Regions from separate parts of the Homo sapiens genome. Here region 2 is linked to region 1. Evidence: fine-mapped expression QTL. A gene starts in region 1. The other region holds a variant in brackets. All regions are shown on one strand. Distances are from middle to middle.

Region 1 (4,402 bases):
TTATCTGCCTGATTTTGTACAGGTTGATAGCCTTGCCTAAAGGGCTTATATTACCTAGTCCTTTCTCTTTGAACTTATTTCAGTTCTCTCTTTAGCCAAACTTTTTTTTTTTTATACCCAATATGCTCTTCCATTTCAAACCTCCACACTTGGTCCAAGGTCCACATGGTGAAGGGCAAGTTACTCCTATAGGCAACAGCCACTGAAGGATTTATGGAAAGGGTGTGAAATGATCAGATTCGTATTTTGGAAGGACTGCTGTGGAGAACATACCTGGGCAGGAGCATGGGGTGCCATTAGGAGGCTGCTAGGGTTATCTAGTGGGGGCGCTGGTGAAATAGCAGGGCTGGAGAAAATAGCAGGGATGGAGAGATAGGTGGATTGGAGAAGTGTTTCAGAGATGAGATAGGTAGGACCTGATCACCAACGTGGCTAATTTCAAAGAAATGTTATTTGCCCAGTGTTTTGCAGCTATGAATTCAAACCTAGGCCTTCTTGTTGCAGGTCCAAGGGAAGATCTCATGGCATTGTCTCATGGTACTCAAAGCCCTGCGGGCCTCTCTAAATCCCCACTGTGGCACCAGGAGCCTGTGCCTCGCAGACCGCTGACCCCAGGAAGTAATGGACAATGAGGCGCAGCTGCTGCTGCCTCTCTGGGTTTGTGCTGAGGCCACCTTCTCGGGGCCGTTACAAGCCAGTGCCTGAGCATGCATGCTTACTAAGGCAGACTCATTTCTGGGAGACATAGACCTCCTCCCCAACGGATGACTGGCTAGAGAAGCTCCTTATTACCTTGCTGAAGTTCTCTTAGACTGCACAGCTGTCTGGGATGCTTCCACTCAACCTGGTTTCCTTCTTTTCCTCCCTCGCGGGTGGACTTGCATCGAGGTCTGATGGCTCTCACAGCCTTACCTAGTTCTCTCCTCATTCTCTCTCACAACAGCATTTCCCCTAATAAAATCCATGCATATTTAATTCTATCTTGGAGTCTGCTTCTTGGAGGAGCAGACTAACACAATTATGTAAGAACTGGCTCCAGGGATCAGCTTATAATCACTGACTTCCTCTGAGTTTGTCCACATTTTTTAGGCGATGGGGAAGCTTGGCTTTAACAGTGCCTGACCTACTTTGATGCAATGAATTTTTGCTTTTTTACTTCTTACACAAAAGATAAACATGGAATGTTTATCATTTCAACATGGAATGACAGTTTCTAAAGTATAACTTTAGAAAGATATACTTTATCCTCCTTGAATCCTAAGCATGGTGCACAAAAGCTATTTTACAACACTGTCATTAGTGATATTGGGTGTATGGCCCTGTAAAGCCTCCAGTCAAAGGTTTTGCTAGGAATCTTTGCCAACCGAAGAAGCACTTCCAGAACAAATGCCGAAGCACAGAGCAGCCTTTCTATGCACTCTGAAAACCTCCTCTTAGCTGGCCTTCCTGTCTTTCTGGGACCAGATTTTGGGGTCAAAGCCTTAACATTTGATAAACTGTAATCTCAAACTAAAACAGATTTCTTTGAGAAAATGAGAGCAAACACGGCCTGAAATGGTAAAACAAGGCACCTCTCAATATATCCAATGTGAAAACCATACATGTTGGCTTCCTTAGTCCAAAAGTTAGAATCAAAATGTTGATTTTTGATTAGCAGAGACACAAACAGCATATTCAGGAAGCCATTGTTTTCAAGAGCCAGGAAGAAAACTCTTCACTTAGGATACCGTAAGAATCCTTTTTTCTTGGGCTACTTTATAAAACATACATACCACAGAGTTTCAGGCTCTTTAAAAACCCATCTTTACACTGATCTAACTGCTCAGATTAATTTTGAAACAGGCAACGTGCAGAAAAAAACAACATCTAAAAATTAAACCTCCCCTCTTTCCGTTCTAAAGTTTCATTTCAAAAGTATTAGGAAATCTTACTTTAAGCAGCGAGCTGATGGCGTTCTCCAGAACTCGGTTTGAGCAACAAACTTGAGACAACCTTTGTCTGGAAGCAAGTCAAGCGCTTAATAATGCATGCTGGGATTTGTAGTTTCCCTGCTTTCAGAGTTTAGTGGCTCCATCCATACACTTTATAAATGTATGTGCTGCCATCTAGTGGAATTCAGGTAGAACTATGAATTCCAAGTGGAAGGTGAAAAGTGGAAAAGCACCTTAGAGCTTACTTAGGATGCGGAAATCATTTCCTTCACTTCAGTCTCTCCACTTCTCTGTTTTGTTTATGCCTACTATATGCGGTGCCAGGGTAGACGAGATTGGCTGAGCTGGAAACTGCGTGTGGAAGATAGCAGAGCAACAAAATAGAGGGAACCCAGGTCACTGAAAATTCTGGAGCCTTCCTGTCACTTGGCCTGGATTGTTTTAAGGGAGAGAAATAAAAAAAAAAATCCTTTTTGTTTGAGATACAGTTGTGATTTTTATTTTTTCATGCTCAGAATATTCTAACACTAATGCACATTTAGTGGCAGAATGCCAGGAGCCTTTTACTACACTGGGAATGGGGTTGGGGAGAACGTGAAACTTGGATGACAGGGTGGAGGCTTAAAAGGGAACATGTTAACAGCGAAAAACCCCAGTTTGGCTGAAGAGAACAGAGATATAAGGTCAAAAAGAAAGGACTAGATCTCATGAGCCCTCTAGGTTAGGATAGCAACATGTGCTTTATCTGTAGTGCCAGTGAGCAGAGTGATTGTGTAGGCTACTTGTACATGTACTGTATAAATTGGTTTCCTCAGCACCCATCCAACTCACTTTCCCCTTTTTTCACTTGTCAAAGCTGGAAAACAAAAGTCTCTACTTCATAGCCTTGTTTGCTGCTAGGGGTGGCCAAGCAGCATAGATGTTGCCAATGAAATGCAGGTGGGAATTTCTGAGGAGGGCCTCCTTCTTAAATAGAAAAGTAAGCCCTTCTGAAAGGCTTTTAGCTTTTGCTCCTCCCTTTCTTTTTGCCTGGAATGAAGATAGGATGCCGTGGGACAGAGCAGCCATTTAGTGAGTTCATCTGAGGCCAGAGGCACACATTAACGACAGGGACCAGCAAGAGAAGGAGCCTGCGGCCCTGATGACAGCCTCAAGGCAACAACTCCTCTGGACTTCTTATGTGAGGACAATAAACTTTAGTGTTTTTCACGTTTTTTGTTACATGGAGCTAAGTGATTTCTAACAGTCACAGGGGATAAGAACAAAGACTGTGGCGTCAGTAAGACTAGAGCAAGTCCCATATCTCTCTCTCACTAGCTAAGTGAGTAAATCACTTAAATCTCTGAACCTCTTATGTTTCTCATCTGTAAAATGAAGGTAAAATAGCACCTACCTCAGGGATGTGGTGAGGAGGAACGACTAAGCCTGTGAATCCATCAGCACAATGTTTGCCACACAGGTGCTTAATACATGTTAGTGATTCTTATGATGAAGACATTGTTGGAGAAATTTAATTATAATGGATGGTAAAAGTTGCGCTTTTTAATGTTCTTTTAAAAACTGGACTTAGTTTCTGCATGTGTCTATATGAGGTCTATGGTAAAATTGTCCCTCCTTGTTCATTGTTTCAGCAACTTCTAATGCTGGCTCTAACAATCTGTAATCACATCTAGCTTTGTTCCTGCTTTACTAATAATGCCCTTTGACTTTTGAGGCTTTTGGAACAGACTTTATGAGAGTTCTCTAATCAAAGCCAACTCCAATGCTTCTTGATGTAGCTTTCTTCAGCATCCCTCTGTAATCTTCAGCAACAATGCTTACTTGATAACAGCCTAAGTCACATGGTATTGCAAATACTTGCTTACCCATTAGTATTCTCAGCAGACTAAATTTCTTCAAGGGTGGGGACTATGTTTTACACCTTTACATTGTGATTAGCTCGTATTAAAAGAGTATTAGTTACTTGTTTTCTTATCTACAATATGAGTTCCACATTGGTAGTGCCTTTCAGTGCCTAAAACAGTAATTGGCAGATAGTAGATGCTCATTAAATATTTGCTGAGTGAATGGCAGTTTCTTAATAAGTTTCCTGAATATAATTCTGCCAGGCTCTCAAGACAATGTTTGTGATAATTAATTTTAGGTGTCAACTTGACTGGATTTACGGATCCCCAGAGAGCTGGTAAGCATTATTTCTGGGACATCTCTGAGTGTTTCTGGAAGAGATCGGCATTGGAATCAGTGAACTGGGTAAGGATCTACTTCACCCAATGTGGGCAGGCACTATCCAATTGGCTGAGGGCCCAGATAAAACAAAAAGGCAGAGAAAAGGTGAATTCTCTCTCTTCCGGAACTGGGACATCCATCTTCTCCTGCCCTTGGATACCTGAACTCCGACCAGATTCTCAGGCCTTCAGACTTGGACTGAGCCACGCTCCTAGTTTCCCTGGCTCTCCAGCTTGCAGACAGCC
Region 2 (4,402 bases), 35 kb after region 1:
GGACTCTTGCTTTTCTTCCTTTTAATATCATTTCTTAATATTTTAAAGTAAACTAAGAAATATAATTGTAAGTTAAAACTTTATTCTAGTTATTTGCATAATATAATTTTGGCAGTATACATGATGTAACAGATTGTACCTATTAGAATTAAAGCTTGTCAAAATGACAAATTTGTGACTAATTGCTACAATACCTGAAGTGCATCTTAATTTTTATTTTTTGAGATGGTCTCACTATGTTGCCCAGGCTGATCTTGAACCCCTGGAGTCAAGTGATCCTCCTGCCTGAGCCTCTTAAGTAGCTGGAATTACAGGCATGCCACTGGGGCTGGCTTCATGAAGTGCTTCTAAATGTAGCTTTTCAGTACATATAGCAGACCTTACATACATGTTGGGAATTGGATGCCAGCCTCACATAGATGAATGCAAGTAACACATTCCATGTGGAGTTGTTGTAATAAAGCGGTTTCTGACTCCCAGCATAGACATAAGTTTTCCTGTATCTATTGAGGTCTGAAGAGAGGCTAGTCCATTATTTGCCAGTCTTTATGTCTGGCCAGGTATCACTCTGCAACGTATTTTTAATTTCTGGTAAATGAAAATAGCTCTAAGCACATGAAAAAGTACCTTTCTACTTGATAAAAAGGCTTAAAATCTAACTAAATCCATTTAAAATAAATTATACCTCAATATGTAGATCCATATTCTGGTTCAATTTGAGATCCCTTAATTCTCTGGATGGTACATCACAATCTTGTTGAAGGTGCTGTATTTTAATTAGCAATTCCTTTTGCTTTTCCACTTCATCAATAAAATCCATTTCAAATTTATTGATGGATTCATGTTGTTCTTCTTTTATTTTTGTAACATAGCTTAACACATACTTGCAGAAAAAAATTAAACAAATTGGTAAATGAAAATTTTGTCACATGTAGAGAAAGTTTTCATCCTTGAGACTATGAGGTAGGATGACATCTCTTATTTACCTATATCCTCTCACAAGTGAGGAAAAGGGAAAGAGCTTCTCTCTATCCCCAGTTTTTCCTCTTAGTATCTTAGGAGAATAACTAACTCCCAGACCTATAATTCCTTATTTCTGACTTCTTACCAGATATACTTCTTGGATGTCTTACAAGTACTTCAAATTCAACATGTTTAAAACGTAACATGATCCCTTTCTCTACAAGTCCTCCTTTTTCTATTGCCCAGTTTTTGGCTAATTACATTACCAATCACCCAGGTTTCCCAGTTAAACTCATGAGACTCATTTTCAACATCCTCTCCTGCCAACGCTGATTGGGTAACCAAAAAGATGAAGTTACATGCCTCAAGACTTCCTTGTCGGCCGGACATGGTGGCTCATGCCTGTAATCCCAGCACTTTGGGAGGCTGACGTGGGCAGATCACAAGGTCAGGAGTTCGAGACCATCCTGGCTAACACAGTGAAACCCTGTCTCTACTAAAAATACAAAAAATTAGCTGGGCGTGGTGGCAGGCGCCTGTAGTCCCAGCTACTTGGAGGCTGTGGCAGGAGAATGGCGTGAACCCGGGAGGCGGAGCTTGCAGTGAGCCGAGATCATCACACCACTGCACTCCAGCCTGGGCAACAGAGCAAGACTCCGTCTCAAAAAAAAAAAAAAAAAAAAAAAAGACTTCCTTGTCAAGCATATTTAGATATTTGGCTTCAAGAGACAATAATTTCAATGCCAAATGTCTCATGGACTTCATGAATAATTCTAGATGTCTGATTACCAGGATTTGTGGAAGAATTACCAGGGCCCGAAGGGCAATCTACCCAGGTAGGGCAGATACCAGCTTACTTATTCCTCAACTTCCACCATTCCTTAACCTCTTATAATCTGGTCTCTTCCTTAACTACCCAGTTGAAACTGTTCTCTGACAATGATCACTAATGAGTTCTATTATCACCACATTGAGAGAATATCTTCAGTCCATATTCTGACTCTCTGAAGTATTTGCCACTCATAACTTCATCTTTGACATACTCTTCTCCACTGATTTGGGTAGCAGTACTTTTGCTAG[T/G]TTCTCTCCTGTATCTTTGACTTTTCCAACCTTGAACCCATGTGTTGCTCCCTTTTCTGCTACTGCCTCTTAGACATTTATCTTTTCCAGAGTTCTGTTTTTATCCCAAGGCTCTTAGTCTTCATTATGCTTTCTGGATGATCTTACAAATGTATTATCTATCACCTATATGCTGATCAGTCTCAAATGTTAGTTCTTATTTTTCTCCTGCCAAACCTCAAACTCAAATCTAAATGTCTACTTGGTTTCTCTTCTTGGATGTTCCATCATAGGTATTTCAGCCCCCAAACATCTCAAATTAAACAATCTCCTGCCTCATCTACCTTGTTTCTCTTTCTTTTTTATTTTTGAATCTCAGTTAATGGTACCACTATCGACAAACCTGACTAAGCCCAAATCCAAGAACTCCATCTAAACTTCTCTCCCTTATGTCCACTATCAATTATTTCGACCTACTATTTTAAGCTGCTAAATATTTCTTTAATCTCGTTTGTCCTCTCCAGCCCTGTGAAACCCTCCCTAGTAGTACAGTCACATATAATATCTCATCTGGACCACTGTAACTGCCTCTTATTGCTTTCTGCTACTAGGCTTATCTCCCTCAAACTCATTTCTTCTGTATTCTTTAGTTTAGTACCTAAGTGGTAATCAGATCCTGTTACCACCACCACTTAAAACAATAGTCTAATGATTCCCCATCTACAAAAAGAACTCCAAGCTTTGTTATTGAGTCTGGCTTCTACTACAGTTTCATCTTCTGTAATTTTATTTAGTACGTCATATAACTTGCATACACTTCTATCATTGCACTTAATACTTGTTTATATGTCTGTCTCACCCCAGACTATGAGATCTTTGAGATGTTAACTCACATCTGCCTCCTGAACATCCTGACATAATGTCTAGGCCCACAGGCAGAGTTCAGGTGTTGCTGATATCCTACATATTACTATGCTCAGACCCACATAATCTTTAATTTGGTAGTAAGAATACTAAATAGCAAATATGCCGGCACCTGAAGCAGGACTTAAATACATTGATGTTTATAACTGAAATATTTAAAAGGATATTACTAAAAAAGATGGTACCTTCAGTTTCTTCATGATTCTGTGGAATTCCATGGAGCATCTCTGGTTTGCAGTAAAAAGTTTTTCAATGTGTTTGGTTTGTAAATAGGGAAGTGAGAGGTTTGCTTTAACTCTCATTGAAAGCTCTTTTTGGAATTCAATTTCCTTCTCCAAGTCAAGAGACAATCTATTCAAGCACTCATAATGATCATCCATCTCTGAGTATCTCTTCAAAAGCTCCTAAAGGAAATGAGAATTCACTCAATTTATAACAATTCATTCTAATATCACAATAAGTAGTTACAACTCTAGAATTGTAACAAAACTTATGCTTTAACATTTTCTGTAGGAGAGAAATAAAGACCTTTGTGTCTAAAAACAAAAGGAAACTCTTGTTGTCATTTTGGATAACAGAAATAATAGATAATTATTATGGCAATTTAAAAAATTTAAGCAAATATAACAAAGAAAGCCAGGACCAACCATTCTTAACATTTTGATGCATTTTCTTTTAGTTTTTTGAATATCCATGATATGAATCAACATTGACAAAGTCTGATGAGAAATTTGAGTAAATTCAATTAAGTATGTATTGTAGTTCATGGTTGAGTGCTGGTTTATGTTTATAGTAGGCAGTCTGAGTTAGCAGATAAAACAAGTGATTAAGAATCAAACCACCTATTTGTCAGCTTGGTACAGATACTTCACACAATCCTACTATCTGCCTACAATCTGTTTTCTAACCCTTTATCAGAGGTAGAGTTCAGGTTCCAGCTCTGCCACTTCTTGACTGGGGAAGTCACTGAGCCATTTTCACAACAACAGGAAGACTACAATAATTACCACAAAGTTTTCTGGGGTCAAGTAAAATATATGATCTATACCTATATACCTATGTAATCTATAAAACAGACACAGTCATTTAACTTGAAGGAGACAAAATTATGTTTATAAACATGTTTCTATACCCAAGTTTTGAACTAAGTCAGATACAAGTCTGACTTAGTTTAAAATTCTGATTCTAACAATTTACTAGCTGTGTAACCTTGGGCAACTGCTAAACTTCCTTTCTGAGGAAGGCAGTTTCCTTGTTTATGAATGGAGCAATAAAGCCTATATCATGAGGTAAAGCACCCAGTATGGTACCTGGCATACAGTAGACATGCAATAAATCTGGACCCATAGACTCAAGTGACTTGAGGCTATGCAGGTGACACACTGGTCAGAGCACAGGTAGAGAAACATGTAAAATTCAAGTTACTGTAATCATGTAGTAGGTAACATGTTTAGTT

The links. PIP is the estimated chance that this variant, and not a neighbour inherited with it, causes the effect. A credible set is the group of variants that fine-mapping cannot tell apart.
Region 2: its variant is the best candidate, but not a certain one, in a credible set for the expression of BDH2 in whole blood (INTERVAL, PIP 0.88).

Annotation. Positions count from the first base shown.
Region 1 is chr4:103,097,852-103,102,253 of GRCh38, forward strand. BDH2 (3-hydroxybutyrate dehydrogenase 2) reads right to left here and starts at 1,983. Exons shown (of 10, transcript NM_020139.4): 1 at 1,932-1,983.
Region 2 is chr4:103,133,010-103,137,411 of GRCh38, forward strand. It overlaps CENPE (centromere protein E), which reads right to left. Exons shown (of 49, transcript NM_001813.3): 40 at 3,132-3,350; 41 at 686-883. Among named protein-coding and RNA genes, the nearest start is that of BDH2, 35 kb to the left of the region's middle. The variant T/G (reference allele first, on the strand shown) is at 2,044.